3 linked regions of the Homo sapiens genome follow. The protein of the gene in region 3 purifies or fractionates together with the protein of the main gene of each other region. This does not show direct contact. Each region holds a gene or a part of one and is shown on either strand. Other genes may lie near its edges. The genes, in order: POGK, MTPAP and ZNF333.

What was found.
Region 1: the proteins of ZNF333 (region 3) and POGK purify together in Homo sapiens (affinity purification with mass spectrometry; one large-scale study listed by BioGRID and IntAct). This does not show direct contact.
Region 2: the proteins of ZNF333 (region 3) and MTPAP purify together in Homo sapiens (affinity purification with mass spectrometry; one large-scale study listed by BioGRID and IntAct). This does not show direct contact.

What each region holds. Positions count from the first base shown.
Region 1 is NC_000001.11:166,842,373-166,846,024, reverse strand, and holds part of POGK (pogo transposable element with KRAB domain), read right to left. Parts: intron 1-3,652.
Region 2 is NC_000010.11:30,314,774-30,318,425, forward strand, and holds part of MTPAP (poly(A) RNA polymerase, mitochondrial precursor), read right to left. Parts: intron 1,438-3,652; coding exon 1,345-1,437; intron 1,264-1,344; coding exon 1,190-1,263; intron 1-1,189. UniProt on the Homo sapiens protein: Polymerase that creates the 3' poly(A) tail of mitochondrial transcripts. Can use all four nucleotides, but has higher activity with ATP and UTP (in vitro). Plays a role in replication-dependent histone mRNA degradation.
Region 3 is NC_000019.10:14,696,470-14,700,121, reverse strand, and holds part of ZNF333 (zinc finger protein 333), read right to left. Parts: intron 925-3,652; exon of another isoform or gene 924-924; coding exon 841-923; intron 1-840. UniProt on the Homo sapiens protein: May be involved in transcriptional regulation.

The sequences.
Region 1 (3,652 bases), on a different chromosome or scaffold from region 3:
AGAGAAGGGGCCCTATTTGGCCTTTCCAATCCACAAGAGCATGAAGAGGAAGAAAGAAGGGCTAATTACAGCTTAATATATGTAATGAGATGCCAGAGCAAACTCATTCACTTTGATCCTGGACCAGGTAGGCAGAAAGCCCAAAGGACTGCATCCCTCCCCTGTTCCTCTGCTTCCTGGCCCAGCACCAGGGGGCTCCTCAGTAGCCCAAGGCAGCCAAGCCACCCAAACCAACCTCCTCTTTTTGTTTTTAACTGTATTTCTTATTACAGTCATTAAAAATCCTACTCCAAAGCTCATCCTATTTAGTGATAAGAAGGCACTGGATGGCTTGTTTCAGGCTGGTTATTTTGTATTCTTGCCTTCAAAGCTATTTCCCAAAGCTGTATCTTGGGTCTGGGTGATTATGATACTGTTTTTCCTTAGCTTAGAAAATTAGTGTCCATATGCTATATAGCCTGCAGCCACTTCAGGGGTCAGGCCAACAGTCACTTACATACATTGGCCTTTCCTCCCTGACCCAAGGAAGCCCCCTTGTTCTCTCCCCACCTCCACAGCACCTCATACATAGGAAGCACGTACTAGGAAAGGGCCTGTAACTGCTTCATTTATTCCCTGCAATGGGCCTGTGGAGGAGTAGATACGCCTATTTTTTTTTTTTTTTTTTGAGATGGAGTCTTGCTCTGTTGCCCAGGCTGGAGTGCAGTGGCACGATCTTGGCTCACTGCAACCTCTGCCTCCTGAGTTCAAGCCATTCTCCTGCCTCAGCCTCCCTAGTAGCTGGGATTAGAGGCACAAGCCACCATGCCCCTACTTAATCAAGGAGAATATGGGCTTGGAGAGGTCTCATTTCCAGGCTAATGTCATAGCCAATAAATGGTGGGGTTGCGTTTTGGGGCCACCACCGCCTGACCCCAAGGATCCAGCAATACCGAGCACAGCTGCCTCCCTGATGACTAACCCTCAACTCTCCCCAGCTCTGTGCTCCACTTGTACTCAGCTGTGTGCAGTTCCCTGAACAACCATTCCCCAACGCCCCCACACCTTGGCCCATATTCTCCCCTGGCCTTGGAGGGCCTCCCCTTTCTTGGTCTGGCTGACACCCACCCATCTTCCAGGACTCAGCCCAAAATCCCTGCTCCCGAGGAAGCCCACTCTGTGCCACGCTGTGAGCACACCCACATGTCCCTGAAATGTCCTGGGCTCCACACTCCCGGGGCACTCATCACACTGCAGAATTCTTTTGGTTGACTTGTCTGCTCCCTCCACTAGAATCTGAGCTTGTTGAAAGCAGGACCTGTACTTACTCCTTTTTGCTTCCCTAAGCCGAGGACACTTCCTGTAGCTAGTAGTCACTGAAAAATGTGCTTTTGAATATACGATCTAGGCAAATCTCTGGATTTCCCTTCTCTTGTTCTACTTGGAACTGTTTCAAAGAATCATTAAATTTTATCTGTCATAAAACCAAACCTACTCTTTGGAGTAAGAATGGACAAACATCCCTAAGTGTGAAATATGAGGAGGTAAAATGGATTCGTCTTCAGGCTTTCCTCAGACTTCCTCACCCTGGAAAGCCAGTCAGCCCAGGAATTTTCCACCCTACTCCTTTCCCAATTCCCAGGCTTTTAAAGAACTGTCTCTTTGGCCTTTTTTTCTCCCTGGGAAGTTCCAGATCTAGGTCATACCTATTTATAGTCCCTTTCCCTTTGCTGATAAAATGGGAACAGGACTGTCTATGCCTGTCATTTCAGAGGGGCCATCAATACTCTTAGGGGGGGTAACATATTCTAGGCCTGGTAAAAACATCAGGTACCAGGAGCCCTGAAGCTGCAGGAAGAAAGCTGGGGGCTGGTGCAGGATTCATCTCTTCCTATTAATGACTGAGCCACGGAGGATCTTCAAACAAGCCCACATTATGCTCCAGAGGCACAGTGTAGTGGCTTAGACATTCTCCTCACAGCAAGCCTCTGTGAGAATGGAGCGATCCTTCAGCCAGGCCCTGCTGCGCAGGCCTCCCCTCGCTCCACAGAGGCCTTTTATCTGGCTCAACATAGCAGAAGGTAAACAGGGCCGGCCCCGGGCAAAACTGAGAAGTCAGGCAGTCTGTGTACCACCTCCAGACACCCCTCCTTGGCCTTGCAGGTAGGGACCTTCAGTCCCTGCCCTCCTCCCTTTCCTCAGAAGATCAAGGGCTCACTGGATAAGTGTTCTTCCTCTAGCTTGTGTGCACTGCCTTGCTCTGCTCAGGAAGTTGGCATTCCAATGCTATCTCAAAGGGTAAATGTTGTAAAGTGCTTACACCTTGCACAGCCTCGCTAAAGCCTTGCAGCCACCCAGCAAAGACGCAGGGATCTCGGGGGAAGGGGTTGGGGTAGTTTGTACTGATCCACTGATGGAGTGCCTGCTATGGGCCAAGCACTGTATAGGACACTCAATCATATAAATATATTCTCTCACTGAATCCGCTAAACTAGGGACATGGGGATCACTACCTCACTTTTATGGGTAAGGAAACAGAGTGGTTAAGTAACTTGTCCAAGGTCACAGAGCTAGAAAGTCTGATGCCAAAGCTTTGCTTTCTTAGCAGGCCACTCAGGCCTTAGCATGGTGGCTGTAGAGAGCCTGAGGCCTCCCTTAGAAAGATGGGCTAAGGCCTCATTCCACAGAGCTAAGGAGAAAGCTCAAACTCGCTGGCGTAGCACTGCATGTCCTCCTGGCTGGCTCTGGCCCCTGGCCTGGCCTCCTATACCTGATCCCCTTCCACTCCCTGCCATGAGTTTCAGGTTCCAGCTGCAGGAGCTGCTCCTAACTCTGCACCCAAGCTCCTCTCCTCAGTGCTTTTGCCTGTGCTGTCCTCTTGCCTGGAATGCAACCCCCTTCCCTTCCCTTGGCTGATTCCATAATGACTAAGACTCAGTTCAAAGCACATTTTTTATTTTTTCTACTTAAAATTGTATTTCTATTTCAATTCTATGGAATTTTATCCTAATATATTATCATAGTTCTTATGCTTGAAAAGCTTTCACTGATCACCCTAACATAATTCTCTATAACCAAAATACATATTTTAAAAACAGATTCTTTTCTTCTAATGCTCTAGAGCAGGGTTTCTCAACCTCAGCACAACTGACATTTTGGGCCAGTTACCTCTTTGTTGTGTGTGTATGTGTGTGTGTGTGTGGTGGTGGGGGGGCATCCTGTGCACTGTAGATATCTAGCAGCTCCCCTGGCTTCTATCCACTAGATGCCAGGAGGATCTCCCAGTCCCCAACGCACCCCCACCAAGTCAGACCAACAAAAGTGTTTCCAGATATTGCCAAATATCCAGGGGTGGGGAAAGGGGGTAGTGTTTCTAGATGTTGCCAAATGTCCAGGGGTGGGGGCAAAATTGCTCACTGCTCAAGATTAGGCCTTGTCCAGGAAGCCCCGGAGTTCTCAGCCTGAATGAGGCATCCCCTCATCTTGGCTCCTGGTGCATCCTTGCAGACTTCCACCACTGCACTCTGCACACTGTGCTTACTATTACTTATGTTTACTTTCCTGCCTTGCTCACAAGACTGGAAATTCCATCAGGAAAAGAGTCTCTCTTTACGCCCAGCACTGTGCTTGGTAACTGTGGATGGATGGCTGATTGCCTGGAGGCCACAAATGC
Region 2 (3,652 bases), on a different chromosome or scaffold from region 3:
AGGCAGGAGAATCACTTGAACCCAGGAGGCGGAGGCTGCAGTGAGCCAAGATCATGCCACTGCACTCCAGCCTGGGCAATACAGTGAGACTCTGTCTCAAAAAACAAAAACAAAAAAAAAAAAAAAAAAAAAGAAGAGAAAAGAAAAAGAAAAGCTAAAGCTATGAATCATATGACTAACATAAGCCATTAGTCTATATATCTTTTCCTCTTTCAAATGATACCATAAATTTACTTAATTAACTATTACAAAGCCAATGGTCAAAATTCCCTGATGTGAGCAGCAGCTGTTATATTCCCTAACTTATTTCATGCTTGGCATCTCTGAGCTTTGGAGTACAAAAAAGGTGACGAACTTTGTATGCTTATGACTTTTTCCTTCTAGATAGCATTTGCAAAGCTTTCCGAATGAATCCTTTCTCTCTCCTCTCCCCAATCTTTTATTTTAACAAAGAGTCCATGAGCAGGTAAGAGGGAAGGATGAAAAACGGAGAGGTGAAGAAATAAGGAGAAAGTATATCTGGGTTTGTGTTTTATGAAGCCAATCTTGTAAGGTTTGTAATCAAGTAGCCAAATGCTAAACAGAATAAACCCAAACAGAGGGCTATCCCAAGTTATCTCCCACTTGCAAACAAATTTTGTCTAGACTTCTGCCTGAGTTTCTTTTTGAAAAGAAAAAATGTCTTTCATCCCAGCTGCTCAGAAATCCAAATCGTAAGTTCATTTGCTCAAAAAAAAAAAACAAAACAAAACAAAACAAAACAAAAAAACACCTAAATCCTAAGGGCTCAAATTGAGGGAATCACTGAAATCTATCTTTGGGACTTAAGTTTATTCCATAGACACAAATCCAGTTTAAAAACAGCTGTATGTAAATAATAGTTTTCAGGAAACTTTCTGGAATGTATTCCACATCATGAGGGATACAGTATTACACTAAGTGAGGACAGAAGTCCCATGGCATAATAACAAGGCAGATGCTAAAGAGCTGGCTTTTACTATTTGGCATAAAGGGATGACTGATCTTAGTCAAGTCATGTAACTTCTCTGGACATCAACCTCCTTGTTACTACAAATTACTACACAAAAGAAATAAATAACATTTATTAGAGTGTTTTGAAAACAGTTAATTAAATATTAGTACAGTGGAAGACCAGATACTAATAACTAAATAGTAAAACATTATTTACCTGTCGAATATTTATGGAATTTTTATCGAAAGCAAAATTGCCAAAATACTCAAAAAATTCCTTCAGTAGTAATTCTGTAAGAAAATAAAACAAGGACAATCAGAGGAAAGCCTGTTTCAATCCAGAAAGGATCAAGTAAACAGAAAGACACTTACCTAATGTTTCTGTGTTCTGTGAAGGTTTAATTCTACTCAAGTCACGAACAAATGTGCAGTTGTTGCCTTCTATTACACATTTATCTTCTGCATCTTAAACACAAACAAAAAATATTTCACGTGTTTTTTTTTTTTCTTTGCCTGAGATGGAGTCTCACTCTGTCATCCAGGCTGGAGTGTAGCGGCATGATCTCAGCTCAATGCAGCCTCCACCTCCCAGGTTCCAGCAATTCTCCTGCCTCAGCCTCCCGGGTAGCTGGGATTATAGGCACATGCCCCCACGCTCAGCTCATTTTTGTATTTTTAATAGGGATGGGGTTTTACCATGTTGGCCAGGCTGGTCTCGAACTCCTGACCTCAGGTGATCCACCCACCTCATCCTCCCAAAGTGAGGGGATTACAGGCGTGAGCCACCGCACCCAGCCTATTTCACATATTTCAAAGATATTCCCTACCTCAGAATACAAATCTATGATTTAAATAAATTTAAGGCCAGGCGCGGTGGCTCACACCTGTAATCCCAGAACTTTGGAAGGCTGAGGCGGGTAGATCACCTGAGGTCAGGAGTTCGAGACCAGCCTGGCCAATATGGTGAAACCCCATCTCTACTAAAAATACAAAAATTAGCCAGGCATGGTGGCTTGCTCCTGTAATCCTAGCTACTGAAGAGGCTGAGGCACGAGAATCGCTTGAACCCAGGAGGCGGAGGTTGCAATGAGCTGAGATCACATCACTGTTGCCTGGGCAAGAGAGCAAGACTCCATCTCAAAAAACAAAACAAAACAAAACAAAACAAATTTAAGTAAATTTCTACTCTATTCTTTATTTAAATCACAGATTTTATAAATGATTGAATAATTATGACTGAATGATTAAATAACGATTTAATCTATAATTTCTTGTCTATGATTTAATGATGTTAATTTCACTATGGCATAACTAATCTCAAATCTTTTTATCTTCTTTTAATGGAGTTATATTTTAAAAAAAGATTTGAGACTAGTTATGCCACAGTGAAATTAACATTACATTTAATTTAGCATACTAGAATTATTGTCTTTCAACAACCCAATGATTCCTAATCAATTTTTGAGGTAATCAGTTTTCTAACAGTAGATGGAAATGTAGGGAGTTCCCCCATCTTTCACCAAACCAAATTTCAGCACTACCTCTAGTCAATACTTAATTTACATCTCCAATTCCATTCTTATCATCTTCATACACGACACAAACTGAATGCTAACTAAAAAAGCTTCAGGTAATTTCTAAAATGTAGCACTCTAGACTAACTGGAATTCAGTAATTCAGCAAAACAAACTCAATAACAGCACGTTAGACTCAGATATTCACCTTTCCTACTAGTATTTATATCTTAAGAGGTAATCATTTTCATAAATATACAACCACCATGAAATCCCTGGCCCACACTATCTGCAACAGATACTATGCTGTTTTCAAGAGCAAATTCCCACTCTTCAGAAATCTCATCAATGGCTACTTCCTATCTGAAAGCATTTCATAATTCCAAACTGGTTTTCCATCCTTTTTGTTCCATTCACCATTTGACTTATCTGACTGCATTGTGACTGTTTGTATGCTGTCCACTCCTCTGCCCCAGTCAGGAATTACAAAGGCCACTGTCCTATTCATTATTGCCCAACTCCCCACCACCGACCTGCCCCCAATGAGCATCTAGCATATAGCAGGTATATAATCAATAATCTGGATGACTGCTGATATTTTAATTTTTTTTTTGAGATGGAATCTGGCTCTGTCACCCAGGCTGAAGTGCAGTGGCGGCGTGACCTTGGCTCACTGCAACTTCCGCGTCCCGGCTTCAAGTGATTCTCCTGCCCCAGCCTCCTGAGTAGCCGGAACTACAGGCGAACACCACCACACCCGGCTAATTTTTATATTTTTAGTTAGAGACAGGGTTTCACTATATTGGCCAGGCTGGTCTCAAACTCCTGACCTTAAGTGATCCACTCGCCTCGGCCTCCCAAAATGCTAGGATTACAGGCGTGAGCCACCGTGCCCGGCCCTGATATTTGACTTTAAATGCCTATAATCACCAGAGAGATAAATAAGCCTCCTATAAATTTATCTCCCATTTTTTGTGTTTTTTGTCATTTTTTTGTCAAGACCTGGTTACCTGCATAATTTCTCAAAAATTATTCTAGGTTTTAACATTTTAATAGCACATTTTACGTGCTCTACTATACAATTTATAATATGTTGAAGGAGCTATATAAAATGTATGTATGTATATATATTTCTACTTAGATCTATTTTTAAGGAACCTGAGCAC
Region 3 (3,652 bases):
GAGGTAGAAGGATCGCTTGAGCCCAGGAGTTTGAGGCTGCAGTGAGCCATGAACATGCCACTGCATTCCAGCCTGTGTGGCAGAGCAAGACCCTGTCTTTTAAAAACCAAAAAAAGAGGTGAATGATGGTGGAAAGCTCGCCAATATCTGTGCCAGTGCCCAGGGGTCCTCCCCACCGGGAGCATATTCTCAGCATTTTCAAGCCATGCCTTGTTTAGACAGCTGGAGTTCGTCGAGTGTGTTGCCAGCTCTACCACAGGGCTGCCTCCTATTCACAATGGGGCTTCTCTACCAGGAGGGGTTTTTCTGACAGTTGCTGAGGAGGAAGTCGTATTTCGCACGCTCAATGTCTGACTCACATTTATTAAAATGTTTCCTTCAGGAAACCTTCTAGAAAAAAAGAATCTTGAGGCAGGCAGATCACTTGAGGCCAGGAGTTCGAGACCAGCCTGGCCAACACAGTGAAACCCTGTCTCTACCAAAAAATACAAAAATTAGCCAGACGTGGTGGTGCACGCCTGCAGTCCCAACTACTCGGGAGGCTGAAGCAGGAAAATCACTCGATCCTGGGAGGTGGAGGCTGAAATGAGCCGAGATCATGCCACTGCACTCCAGCCTGGGTGACAGAACAAGACTCTGTCTCAAAAAAAAAAAAAGTCTTGAGCAACAGTCTGGGTTTGCCCAAATTCAGAAGTCACAGGCACTCCCCTCAGACACTGTTTCCCTTCCAAGAGACACCCATGCTGCTAACATCTCCCTGGCTCTGGTCCTGTATTTCCACCTCACGTGTTCCTCAACTTCTCCCATGCTGGGAGCCGGGGAAAACCCCGTGCATCTTACCATTTGCATGTCCCTGGAGGATGCTTCTTCCAAAAGATCCTGCATAGAAGGCAACTCTTCGGGTTTAAGTTGAGATTCCCAGGCTGAAATGAATGGGAGAAAAAATGAACTCCTTTCAGAAAGAAATAGTGACATTAATTGAAAATATATATTCACATATATATGTGAATATATATACACACTATACACACATAGGCTTTTTCTTTTAATGTTGAATATAAATATTCAAATTTTAATACCGAATACATATATTCAAGTTGAGATTTCCAGTCTGAAATGAATTGGGAAAAAATAAACTCCTTTCAAAAAGAAATAGTGGCATAAAATTGAAAATATATATGTGTGTATATATATATATATATATATATATATATATATATATCTATATTTGTGTGTGTGTACACACATACATGTTTTTTGTTTTTTGTTTTTTGTTTTTTTTGAGACAGAGTCTTGCTCTTTCGCCCAGGCTGGAGTGCAGTGGCGCAATCTTGGCTCACTGCAACCTCTGCCTCCTGAGTTCAAGCAATTCTCTGCCTCAGCCTCCCAAGTAGTTGGGATTACAGGTACCCGCCACCACGTCTGGCTAATTTTTTTTGTATTTTTAGTAGAGACAGGATTTCACCATCTTGGCCAGGCTGGTCTTGAACTCCTGACCTTGTGATCCACCCACCTCAGCCTCCCAAAGTGCTGGGATTACAGGCATGAGCCACATGTTTTCTTTACTTTTTATTTTTGAGATAGGGTCTCACTCTGTCACCCAGGCTGGAGTGCAGTGGTGCGATCTTGGCTCACTGCAACCTCCACCTCCCAGGTTCAAGCAATTCTTGTGCCTCAGCCTCCCAAGTAGCTGGGATTACAGGCATGCACCACCATGCCCAGCTAATTTTTTTTTTTTTTTTTTTTTTGAGACGGAGTCTCACTCTGTCGCCCAGGCTGGAGTACAATGGCATGATCTCGGCTCACTGCAACCTCCGCCTCCCAGGTTCAAGTGATTCTAGTGTCTCAACCTCCTGAGTAGCTGGGATTACAGGCGCGCACCACCATGTCAGGCTAATTTTTGTATTTTTAGTAGAGACAGGGTTTCACCATGTTGGGCCAGGCTGGTCTCGAACTCCTGACCTGAAGTGATCCACCCAAAGTGCCGGGACTGCAGGCATGAGCCACCATGCCCAGCCCAGCTTTTAATACTGACCTTAGACTTGGGAAGATCCTGAAAGGGAAGACAGCATCTGTATGTAGGGCTATGTGTGGACTCTGGCAGTCATAGGAATGAGGGGAAAATGAGAGGCAATTTCCTAGCTAAGAATTCTATGAGGACTGAGACTATTTCCAGAAAGCAGATGTTATTAGAAAAAAGAGTAAGAAAGAACTAGACAAAGAACATACATAAAAAGGTTAAATTTAAAGAGGAATTGGATGACAAGTATGGGCGAGAATGTGGATAAATCAAAACTCTCATCTCCGCTGGTGGGAATGTAAAATGGTGTACCTGTGTTGGAAAGTGGTACGACAGTTGCTCAAGAAGTTAAGCATAGCATTACCATATGAGCCAGCAATTCTGCTCCTCAGTATATACCTAAGAGAATTAAGTACATGTCTACATAAATCTTGTACACAAGGCCAGGCACGGTGGCGCACGCCTGTAATCCCACCACTCTGGGAGGCCAAGGTGGGAGGATCACCCAAGCCCAGGAGTTCAAGACCAGCCTGGGCAACATAGGAAGAATGGTCTCTAGAAAAAAATTTAAAATTAGCCAGGCATGAGGGCATGCACCTGTGGTCCCAGCTATTCAAGAGACTGAGGTGGGAGGATTGCTTGAGCCCAAAAGGCTGAGGCTGCAGTGACCTATGATTGCACCACTGCACTCCAGCCTGGGCGACAGAACAAGACCCTATCTCAAAAAAAAAAAAAAAAAAAAAAGAAAAGAAAAAAGAAATATTGTACACAAACATTCACAGCAACATTATTCACAATAGCTAAAAAGTAGAAACAATCCAACTGTCTATCAACTGATGAACAAATAATCAAAATATAGCTTATCCATACAATGTATATTATTCAGCCTTAAAAAAGGAATTAAGTTCTGATTCATGCTACAACATGGATGGATCTGGAAAACATAAAGCTAAGTGAAAGAAGACAGATACTGCTGTAGTTTAAGTGTGTCCTCCACAGTTCATGGGTTGGAAGCAATTCCCATACAACAGTATTGAGAGCTGGAACTTTAAAAGGTGATTAGGTGGCCGGGCACAATGGCTCACGCCTGTAATCCCAGCATTTTGTGAGGCTGAGGTGGGTGGACCACGAGATGAGGAGTTCTCGACCAGCCTGACCAACACAGTGAAACCCCATCTCTACTAAAAATACAAAAATTAGCCGGGTGTGGTGGTGTGCACCTGTAGTCCCAGCTACTCAGGAGACTCAGGCAGGAGAATCGCTTGAACCCAGGACGCAGAGGTTGCAGTGAGCCGAGATCGTACCACTGCACTCCAGCCTGGGTGACAGGGCGAGACTCTGTCCCAAAAAAAAAAAAAAAAAAAAAAAAAGGTGATTAGGTCACGAGGAATCTGCCCTGTGATTACTTCAGAAGGGGGTTAGTTATCTCAAGAGTGGCCTTGCTGTAAAAACCAGTCTGGGCCTCTCTTGTTCTCTTGCAACATGATCTCGTCCACCATGTTATGATGCTGCAAGAAGGCCCTTACCAGATGCAGCCCCTCAGCCTTAGACTTCCCAGCCTCCAGAACCAGGAGTCAAATAAACTTCTATTGTTTATAAACTACCCAGTCTAACTTACTTGCAACACAAAAC